2 separate regions of the Homo sapiens genome follow, and region 2 is linked to region 1. The links come from fine-mapping of genetic effects on gene expression. A gene starts in region 1. The other region holds a variant in brackets. All regions are shown on one strand. Distances are from middle to middle. Region 1 holds the start of DST (dystonin). Region 2 holds the start of DST-AS1 (DST antisense RNA 1).

The links.
Region 2: its variant is fine-mapped to the expression of DST in whole blood (TOPMed, PIP 0.98).

The regions. Positions count from the first base shown.
Region 1 is chr6:56,952,060-56,957,439 of GRCh38, forward strand. It overlaps DST (dystonin), which reads right to left and starts at 2,771. Exons shown (of 104, transcript NM_001374736.1): 1 at 2,348-2,771; 2 at 1,726-1,760. The coding sequence starts at 2,528. It overlaps BEND6 (BEN domain containing 6), which reads left to right and starts at 3,048. Exons shown (of 7, transcript NM_152731.3): 1 at 3,048-3,401. RefSeq lists an enhancer at 1,754-2,385 and a silencer at 2,547-3,236.
Region 2 is chr6:56,840,011-56,845,390 of GRCh38, forward strand. All of the region lies in intron 4 of DST (dystonin), which reads right to left. DST-AS1 (DST antisense RNA 1) reads left to right here and starts at 3,976. Exons shown (of 4, transcript NR_125866.1): 1 at 3,976-4,056. RefSeq lists enhancers at 2,549-3,417, 3,418-4,285 and silencers at 3,369-3,628, 3,719-3,918, 4,259-4,398. The variant C/G (reference allele first, on the strand shown) is at 3,138.

The DNA.
Region 1 (5,380 bases):
ACAAGAAAGATATGGTCCTGCCCTCAAGGAGCTCACAGTCTAGTAGACAAGGCAAATACCACACAAAGATGTCAAACTGTACCAGGAATCTTATGAAGTGAGTTAAGGCATTAAACAACTACCCCCAGCTTTCCTAACCAAATGCAAGCTCAGAACAAAAATATTCAACTGAGAGATAATTAAACAAGACATAGTTGTATCTCATTTTTTGTTTGTGCTTTAGCTGAAATATCTGATGGCTAGTATAATAATCCAAAACAGGATTATTATTCTTGTTCTATCATTTATGTGTGTGGAACTGGGTATCTCTTTTTAAAATCAAAATCTTATATTTTGGTGTTTGCACTCTGTCAATTATTTACTTCTCATCACATCTGAATGGGCTGTTCTATTGAATTAATCTCATATTCAAAAATTGTTGCTTTACGATAGTCCCGGTTTTTGATGTTTTCCATAAACTTTAATTAAGTAATTTAATAAAGACTTGGAAATTTGCAAACATTATCGTTTATTTTTATACATTTTAAAATTCAATTTTACAAAATATAATGATAGCTACCAAATACTGAATACTTATTATGAACTAAGTGGGATTTTTCTTTACACAATTTCTTGTAATTTCCTCCACCCTCCCATAACCCTGCAAGGTACTAATGGCCCTATCTTACAGATGGGTAAATCGAGGCACCGAGATGTATCACACAGCTAGTTAATGTAAAGCCAGGAATGGAACCTCTGATTACCTCACTTATCCTCTCAAGAATCCTAAACTGAATAGAGTTCTCACCTTCCAGGGCTATATACAGTAGAATTACTCTTTGTGCAACATTTTAATGATATTGCAATAATACAGTTAAAGTTTTTAAGCAACTAGAACCCAATAAAACATCTAGGGTGGCATAAAATATCTGATTAACTAATGAAATGAAAGGCAAGATAACTTCAGGTAAATGGAGGGCGTTTAACTATGAAGTCTTTGCCAACATGAGTAAACTGCACCAAGCAGCAACCTCCAAGCCTGGCGGCGTGCAACTTTCCTAAAAAGAGGGGAAATTATCTTAGGATAAGTGGAGGTTGGCCTGAAAACTCCTAAAGAAATCCTAGGTCAAGGAGCGCTTGTGTTTCTTCAGTGGAGCTGGTTCCTGGGTGCAGTGATTAGGAGTTACTTGCCCTAGAGGGATGGTCCACGTTTTGAGAGTGGAGACTAGCACAAGCATTTAAGCACACACTACCATCATCGCTTTGCAAAAATCATCAGATGGTCCCCAATAAAACATGGAGAGCTTTAGGAGAAAACAGAAATGTAAACTTGAAAATCGAAAATGAAATGCATATGGATCAAATTGTTCTGCACTAACCTCTTCGTTTATCCAAGTGAACAACCAGAGTCAACTGACAGCACCCAGAAAACACTTCCACCAGCAAAATATAAACTGTAAACTCAAGTGACATCCACCCTGTGGCTAAGTTTTTTAAGGTCTGCAGCACTTTTAGGGTTTGCCTTTTCCCCTCTTGTACAACAGCTCCACTACACAAGAAATTTGCTAAAACCGTTCGCTGGGCACTAATATGAAATCACTTAAAAGGAAACATGCCACTTTCGGCTAGGGGACAGCATGTTCGTCATTCAGTGTCCTACTGGTTTCTTAACACGCATATAATTAATATTGGTACTCAGGAAAGAGAACTTCTTCTGACCTTGAGCGTGCGCGCTAAATAAATTACCTCAGAACGAAAGTGGTGCGATCTCAAAACAGCATCTGGGGAGAAAAGAGATAAATGAGACTTCATTTAACTCCTTGTTCTTCACCTACCGAGTGACTCATGACTTACCTGGGAGACCAGGGTTGGGAAAGCACATCGCAGACTCCTGGAATTCGGTGGGACATCCTGGGGGAGGGAGGAGGAGTCCTGGGGCCATCGGTCTCTACGTGATTTCTCCGCGAGAAGTTTGCATGAAAGTTCTGGGGGAGTTGGGGAGCCCCGAAGTTTCCATGCCTTACTTTCTTACCCCTACGCTCCAGCGAAGGATGCGTGAAGGCGAGGCTGGCGCAGCCCCGGACTACGCTCAAATTACCCTTAAGGCTTTAGCAAACTGACTAAAAATTTGAGTTCTTTCCTCCCCTCCCTGCCCTCGGCATCGCCGTGGTTATTCAAACCTGGGAGACTGGAGGGCGGAGGTGACGGCAAAAAGGGCAAGGGGCGTTAAAGAAACGCACTCAGCCTGGGGAGTGGGCAATGATGGGGCTAGGGGCAGCCGAGGAGAAGGGAGCGAGCCGCGCTTCACTCTCCAAATCGGCTTAATTGTTCCTGGTAGCCCGCAGAAACCCGTCGCGGCGTGTCTTACCTCGGCTTCTTGAACGACCCGAGAAGACCGATTTCATCGGATGCCTCCCTTTCTGGAGCTTGCGGTGCCAGCAGCAGAAGAAGACGATGGTGGCGATGGTGCCCAGCAGAAGCAACAAGAGGAAGAGGGCACATTGGATGCTGTAGGGTCTCAGCAAGACGAGGAAAGCCGCGGCGATCATGGTGCGGGCGAGGCGAGGGCGACTCGACGGCGGGGCTGGAGGGCGGCGGCACAGGCACCCGCGCTGGGCGCACGCCGGGACGGCGGGCACGGGTGAGCGCGGCTCAGCGCGTCATGCCTGGCGCTCGCGGCCCCGCGCCCAGCCCAATGGCTGCGCACCCCGCGCCAGCCGCGCTACGCGAGTGATCCAGGGCTGCGGGGAGCGCTTGCCATGACTCAGCAGACAGCGACGAGGCTGCGACTCGGCGGCTGGGATCCTCTCCCCTCCCTCCCCAGGCGCCCCCGCCCCCGTCCGTGCGCAGCCCCCGGGCGCAGCCCCGCCGGGGACGCGGCGAGTGGGGAGGAGCAGCGCCGCCGCCGCGGCCGCCCGGGCCCCGCGCATCGTCCTGCGGCCGCCGCCGACCTCAGCATCCCAGAAGCCGGGCGCACGTGGGTCGGGGCGGGGACGCGGCGCTCAGGCTGCAGCCGCGGCAGCCTGCGGGGGGCGGGAATGGGGCGCCGCGGCGGGGGCTCGGCTGATGACATCACGGCCAGGCTGCGGCAGCGCGGGCGCGCGGACATGGCTGCGGCGGTTTCGGCGGCGTCCGCGGGCTGCACCCGGGCCTGAGAGCCCAGCGCCCTCCCGCGGGGCCGCCCGCCAGTCCGCGCCGTCCGCGGGTGCATTGGCCGGGTGCCTCTAGCTTCCCGGACACCCGGAGCTTCCGCCTATCCAGCCTCCCTCGGCCAAATTGCTGCGGAGCCCGTCGTCAGGGGGCGCCAAGGAGCCAGGGGGAAAACCGAGAGGCGCTGACAGGAGCCTCCCGGCGGTGCTACCCTCCACCTCCCACCTCCCTGCGCCCCGCCCCGAGGTTGGGGCTTTGAAGAATGCAGCCGGGTGAGCTATTGCTTGTGGGGGTTTCCTCGCACTCTGAAGCGCGAGCGCCGGGAAGGGCCTTCCCTGGGAATTGGGATACTCCAGGAACGGGAGGCCCACTCCTCTCCAAGCCTCTCTAAACTAGGAGCGCTCCGGGGTAGTACGCTCTGGTCGGCAGAGGTGAACTCTTCCACCCCAAACTTGGTGCTTATCTCGCAGCTAAGAATTGGGCACTTTCGATCTTCTTGTATCCCTGGGTTTGCCCTAAAACCCTGACTCATTTAGTGCATTTGAAGGGCAAGGCGATTTCAGATTTAGGGACCTGGCAGATGAAGTAAGTTGGTACTTGGCTTATAAACATTTGGGGGAGAAATTTTTTAGGGAGTGTGAGGCAATAGTGATCTCTCACACTTGCAGGCACACTCTGTCTCCCCTTTGTCCCCTCCCCACGTTTCTTCATAACCAGCAAAAAGTATATGGCAGTTGGTGGCCAGGGGATTTAACACTGATGCAATGCCAGCACGGAAGGTATAGCGAGAGCGCTGCAGTGTGCCTTTCTGCGGACGGCCACGGCCACCTGGCCAGGAAGCGGCTGCTGCAGCAGTCATTCTGCGGCATCTTGCGGCCTTGGCGGGCGGTGCTGTGCCGCGTTCTGCTGCCCCCAAGGCAATGCTGGCTTTCCCTGTGTGGGGCTGGATTGTTTGTTTCATTTACTCGCATAAGAAAACTTTAATTATAGTGACAAGGTAACACTTGACTGCATTTGCGGAGTTTCTTATAACAACTGTATTAGCCTCTTTTTTGGAATATTTAATAGACTGAAGAAATTGTGTCATAAAAATTTATAAAAATTTGAAAAGCAGGTAAATAATTGGGAGGAATAAAAGTTTTATTTGCTTGTAGTGATCTCAAAATCAGTGTTGTTTTCCAACTATACAAAACCGTACAGCTCTGCATGAAAGCTTAATCATTGATGTCCTTAAAGCCAGTAACATATTACCGTGTGTAAGTATTAAACCTAAAAAGGCATTGGTTAATGCAGTCTCTTAGTGCCAGATTCATAAGCATGGAAAACAACAGATACGTTTTGTTTACAGCTGGTTTCCTTAAACAAAATAAACATTCGAATTGTTGACATGTTGCATCTCATTCATTCAGTTGTTTTGGATTGAACTCAGAAGGGCCCTTGCTTGGAGACACTGCATAAGGTGGGAATTTTGAATGGCAGCATGTAGGCTGCACTGAATTCCAGGATAGGCTTCATGGGTCTCTAGCACTCAGAGTGGGTGACAGGTAGCACTACATCATGTGCATATGGCTAAAGGTTTCTTGATACCGCAGCCCACTGCAGTGAGAAACTATTCAACAATTATGCAGAGGTTATTGAAGAAAATCCTGAGAGTTTGCAATGTGTGGCACATCAGGAAAGGAAGAATTCTCCACCGCATTGACTCAACAATGGCATGGTGGAGTAATTTTAAACAACAAAACTGAACTAACCGTGTGCAGACATTGGGGGAAATAACTAACAGAATTTTGGAAGGTCATCTTTATGCTTCTCATTGACTGAAATTTGTAAGTGAGCTGAAATAGCCTACGTATCCTTGAACAGAAACATGTCAAAGACACACAGAATAGTATTCAAATTGCCCCAAACGCTATATTTTTTTAACAACAAAAAGCAACTAAATAGCTATTATGGTTTTCTGAGCTATGACTTTAGCACAACTGTTATCATCCTGCGTCTTGCTGCAGCCATTTATAAGTTTCAAGTGCACACAAGAACATCATTTATCTCTCTTGGCAGGCAAATGCTTAACTGCCATGCAATAGGATTATAGATATTTCTTTTTAGATGCATTCATTTCTGTTCTTTCCATCAGTTGTCTTAAAGATACTAATAATAAACAAACCAAATCCTTGAAAGAATTTAGTATTTAGTTCCATTGTTATTTTCTGATTTGTTTGTTGCTAATTTATCATTTTTTCCAAATAACAGC
Region 2 (5,380 bases), 110 kb before region 1:
CCAGATCAATAGAAAAATAACCCTTTTGGTGGAACAAAATAATGTAACATTTTAAAATTACATCTATAAGGTATAGAATGAAATGTATTGAATTCACATTATCTCATTTTCTCACTTAACATCATACTACAAAGTAACAATGTGTTGGGAAAACAAATATTCCAATGATAAACTCAAAAAGCAGAATTTCATAAGATGAGAACTAATTAATCATTTATAATAACAGCATATGGGTTAGTTTCCTTACACTTAAGAAAAAAAATAAGATACTACTGTATCTTTTAAGCTAAGCTACTAAGAATGTTTTGTATTACACGGTATATACACTGGATAATTTACTATAGATATAAAAGAAAGCCATTCTGATGTAGACAATTTCTAGCCTAAACAATAATAAAGAATTATGTTTTACTCAAAAATAAATGCCTTTATTCAGCCGAAGTTTGGTATCAGCTGAAGAAATATGTTTTTTTAATCAGATGTCCCTGAATATTCCATGAATATATTTTACAAGTAACAGGACTCGAATATGAATCAGAACACTGCACCCTTCTTTGTAGCAAATAGCTCTTTCTGTGTTATTCTAATTCAGCAAACAGTTGCCTATTTTTGCTCAGAAGTAATGGACCAAAACAAGATACAAGAATAGACTGACTACACCATAAATAATTAGCGCTCACTCTCCACTTTTCTTGTTTTTCTACAGAGTCTGATTTGAACTCCTCTCAAGGCTGTCTGAAGACTAGACCTAACAAAACTCTCGACTTCTAAATCTAATGCTCATAATTCCTAACATTATAGATTATTACAATTCTACATTTCTGACAACAGGCAGATTTTGAATTGGTTCCAGCTGACTCCACCACTTACACTACTCAACAGCTGAGGCATATGATAACTTGGCAACCTGATAATATTCTAGATGAATGCAAACTCATTCTGTAACCAAGGAACTCTGTCAGAAATAAAATCAAAATGACTTCCCTTTAAGTTTAAATGAGAACATAAAATGTTTTGAACAATGCATGATTTCAGAAAGTGAGCAACCGTACTCTGAACGTTTAGTGAACTGACACTCCCTATTCAAAGCCTACAATTCTTTTCTGATTAGATCAGTCCCCACAGCAAGTCACCAGGATAATAAGCAGTGTAGTGAAGTCATCATACTGGATACTGATGGGAAATCATAACTGGCTTCAAAACACATCGGGAAACAATGAGTTTTCCAGGTCTCCAGCTTTTCATGGAATACACTGCCCAATACTCTTACTTTCCTTTCCATGACTAAATGAAACATAGCACAGCTATAAAGCCCAAGTACAAATTGATGAACTAAGCATTTTAAAAACCTTAAGTAAAAATGAGGAAAACTCCCATCATTTTTTCAGTGACGTCTGAACAATATGTTTGAAAATGTATCTGTTTAAGGGCAATACTGATTGTTGTACACTGGCCTTCAGATCTTTAATTTCCTTTTATTTCCAAAGGCAAAGACAAGCTTTTAAACAATGCCTACTTCTTTTAGACAAAGTCAAATAAGCACTCGTTTTCAGTCACCTGAAATCACCCACGTGTCACTTAAGTAAAACTTCATGTGACAAAAATTCATTCAGCTATAATTTTTTTCAAAAGTATAAAATGTATCTACTTTAGAACTTTCAGATTTTTTTATTTCTGACTGTATAGAGCACAGATGTATTTCTTCAATAAGGTTTGTTGGTCTATATTGCAATATTTCTCCTTTTCAAAGCTCTGGAAACAACTAATTACAAACCTTACTTTAAAATGGAGTGATGCAGGTAAACATGAGTATATTACCCACCCACCCACATACACACACACACACACACAAATGTCACAAATGTGCTTTAGCCTAAAATATCACTGCACTTGCTCAGTGGCAGTATTATACACAATAAGAGTCTTGGCACAAAGGAATTCTCATTGTACTGTTTACAAAATTCTACAAGGATTGCAAGAATTTCGGTTATAAAACATATCCTACAAAGAGAGAAAACAATTGTGAGTGTATTTGGGCTTTTTGGGGCTTTGGAATTTTATTGTTTAGTTCAATTTTTTTTTATTTCTACTTTCTACTAATAGAAAAACTACATGCATCATTAACCATATAATACCACTGAAATTACTGACATTGAGTTACCAAACCCAAAGCAAATATTCAAAAGATATAAAACCATCTGAATCCTACCTATGAAATGGGTCACTATTCACTATAAATACTTTAAACCTCTGTGAGCTGCTCTTGAGTTCGGAGTGTTTTGGGAGCCACAATAAAAAGATGGTATACACACACTTAAAAATACATTTCCAGACACAAAAACACTTAAAAAATGGACAGCTGCAATTTGTATTTCATCATTATATTCAACTATGAAGTCCAAGTAAACATTATACTAAAACATAAATATCAGATTGGCATAGAATTTCCTGAACATAAAGGATGGGCAGAAAAAAATCTCAAAATACATTCTTTACATTTAAATTTACAACAAACTCACTAAAGTCTTTTATCCATCACGCTATAAAATAATTTTTACAATATATCAGAGTAAGTATATAGTCACAAACTTTATCAAATAAGAAAGATCATTTTAAGGAAAATGATCTAGTGATGCTGAACCTTTTCTACAGGGCTAACCAATACCCTAGCCAAGCAGCAGCAGCAATGCCTTAGTAATCCCATAGAGAATAATCGGTATCCACCCTCCCAGGAAGAATTATGATTACGCGTAGTGCTTAAGAGCTTTTACAAGGGAGAGAAAACGCAATGTGCTTCTTGGAAACAACCCCCTTCCCCCCTCTCTACCGCTCATCTAAGGGCGTCTCCGGACTGTCGCCCACCCCACCATCCTCCCTGCGCTGGGGGTACTAAATCCCGTGCAAAAAGACCTGGTCCATTCCCAAGACTGGTCCAGACACCTGTTTACTCGTGCCCAAGGAGTGGTGGCTCTGATTAAGGAAAGGCAGCGGTTGCCTCTCTGATCAGTGCCAAGCTCCGCAGCCCCAGGGCAGGGACCACATACCTTTGTACCTCTCCAGGACATCCTCGTAGGCCTGGAGATACTCCTGCTCCTCCACGTACAGGTAAGCAGCAGGGGAGAGGTAACCCGCCATGC[C/G]GAAGTTTATCTAAGCGATGACTGACAAATTCCCCTCTCCCCCTCGTAACCCCCGGACAGTATCGCAGTCAGCAAGACACAGCCTTGGGAACTGGAAAAGAGGAAGGAGCAGCACGCTGGGGAGAAGCACGGAAGCCGAAGACGCAGAGCGGGGGCGCAGGGGGCTGCCGGCGCCAGGGCCGGCAAAGGAAACGCCCAGGCCTCCGGGCAGGCCGATGGTGGGCCGCCCGGCTCCGGGAGCCCGAGTCCCTCTCGGGTTTCAGCAGCGGCAAATCTCAGCGAGCCCAGGGGCGGCGACGAGCAGCGCCACGCCAAGCGGAGGAGCGGGGCGTGCGGCGAGGGCGGGCGGGGGCCGGCGGGCGCCCGGACCCTCTGCGGCCGCGCTGACCGCTCTGCTGGCCCTGCACGAGGCGCGTGCTTCGGGCCGGGCCGAGGCCGCGGCAGCGGTGCGGGAGGACCGGCGCGCTGCCTTCACCGGGGATGCTGCGCGGCGCATCTGCGGCATTTCCTGGCCGCCGCGCCGCAGACACTCGCCCGCGCCGGGGAGAGAGGGAGGGAGGAGGGTGGAGGGTGGAGGGTGGAGAGTGGAGGGTGGAGGGTGGAGGGTGGAGGGCGGAGGGCGGAAGGGAGGGGGCGAGCGCGGCGGTCAGCGCCCCGGCTGGCTCAGCTCCGGCCCCGGCGCCTCTCGGCCCCTCCCTCCCAGGCAGAGCCACGCGCCCCAGGCCCCCTCCCCAGGCCCGCCCACCCTGGTGGACCGTGCGGCCAAGCACGCCCACCCCCGGACACTGGCTGCCCGGTCCCGGATCCCCAAGGGCGACGTTTCTATTTGGGATCCACAACAGGTGCCTGAGAAACAAAGCCGCAGATCGCTCCACCGCTGTGCGCAGCCCCCTGCTGAGGGGCCAGCGGCTCTCCCTGGGTAAGGGATGATCGGGGGGAGGGTTGGAAATACTTTCTTCCACCCATCTTTTTGGCGTGGGAGGATTCAGGTCACTCTGTGACAGCACAGGGCAAGGAGGGCACGGGGGTCCGCGTCTAGGGGACATCCCGGGGACAGGGTGAGGAGGCCTCTGCAGGTGGCCCCGCGCATCAGCGCCTGACAGCCGGGCCGCGCCTGCGCCTGAGCTCCCGGCCGCCGCGAGGCTGCCGAGTACCAGCCTGCGGTCCCTCCCTTCTGCCCCCCAGAGCCCACAGGCGCATCTGCTGCTGGGCTCCGCGGCGGGCCTATAGGTTCACAACTGCCCCATATTTATCACCTCCCTCCTGCTCTCTCCTTATTATTCATTCTACATAGTACTAGTATCCATTAAACTGAGTAAAATGGATACAGTTCCCTTAAATTAGATATATGTGTATCATATACTAAAGTGGGTGAGTTTAAGCGTCCATTGGAGGAACCAACTGATACCCAGGCATGTAAATGGATGTGTTTAAGAGTAATGACTGGCCGGGCGCGGTGTCTCACGCCTGTAATCCCAGCACTTTGGGAGGCCGAGGCGGGTGGATCACGAGGTCAGGAGTTCAAGACCAGCCTGGCCAAAATGGTGAAATCCCGTCTCTACTAAAAATACAAAATTTAGCCGGGCGTGGTGGCGGGTACCTATAATCCCAGCTACTCGGGAGGTTGAGGCAGAGAACTGCTTGAACCCGGGAGGTGGAGGTTGCAGTGAGCCGAGATCACGCCACCGTATTCCAGCCTGGGCGACAGAGCAAGACTCCGTCTCAAAAAAAAAAAAAACAGTGAAGTCAGGCTGCTGTACATAGAATCTTCACTCCTTACTGTGTCACATGGGCAAGTTACTTATCCTCTCTGAGACTCTCTTCATCAGTAAAACAGCGATAGTAGTGCCTAACTCATAAAGTTGTATAGTAAATGAAGTTTAGAATAATGTCTGGTGTTATATAAGGATTAGCTGCTGCACCTACTACTTTATTTAGGAGGTGGGGTCTCACTCTGTCATCCAGGCTGGAGTACAGTGACAGGATGATACCTCATTGCTACTGCTATTATTAGATAAATCAGCTGATTGTTGACAGTCTGACCTATGTCAACTTCACGTCTTGTCTAAATCTTCCTTCCCTATTTCCTCCTTTCACATATACTGACCTTTTGCCCTCCATGATTTTTTATTTCTTTGTTAGCGTTGGGTGTTGTGAACTATGGACCATTTTCCATTAATGCTTAGATAGGGATGAGTTCCTCTTGAAAGAAAAAATTGTGTACTCGTGGGAAAAAAAAACTG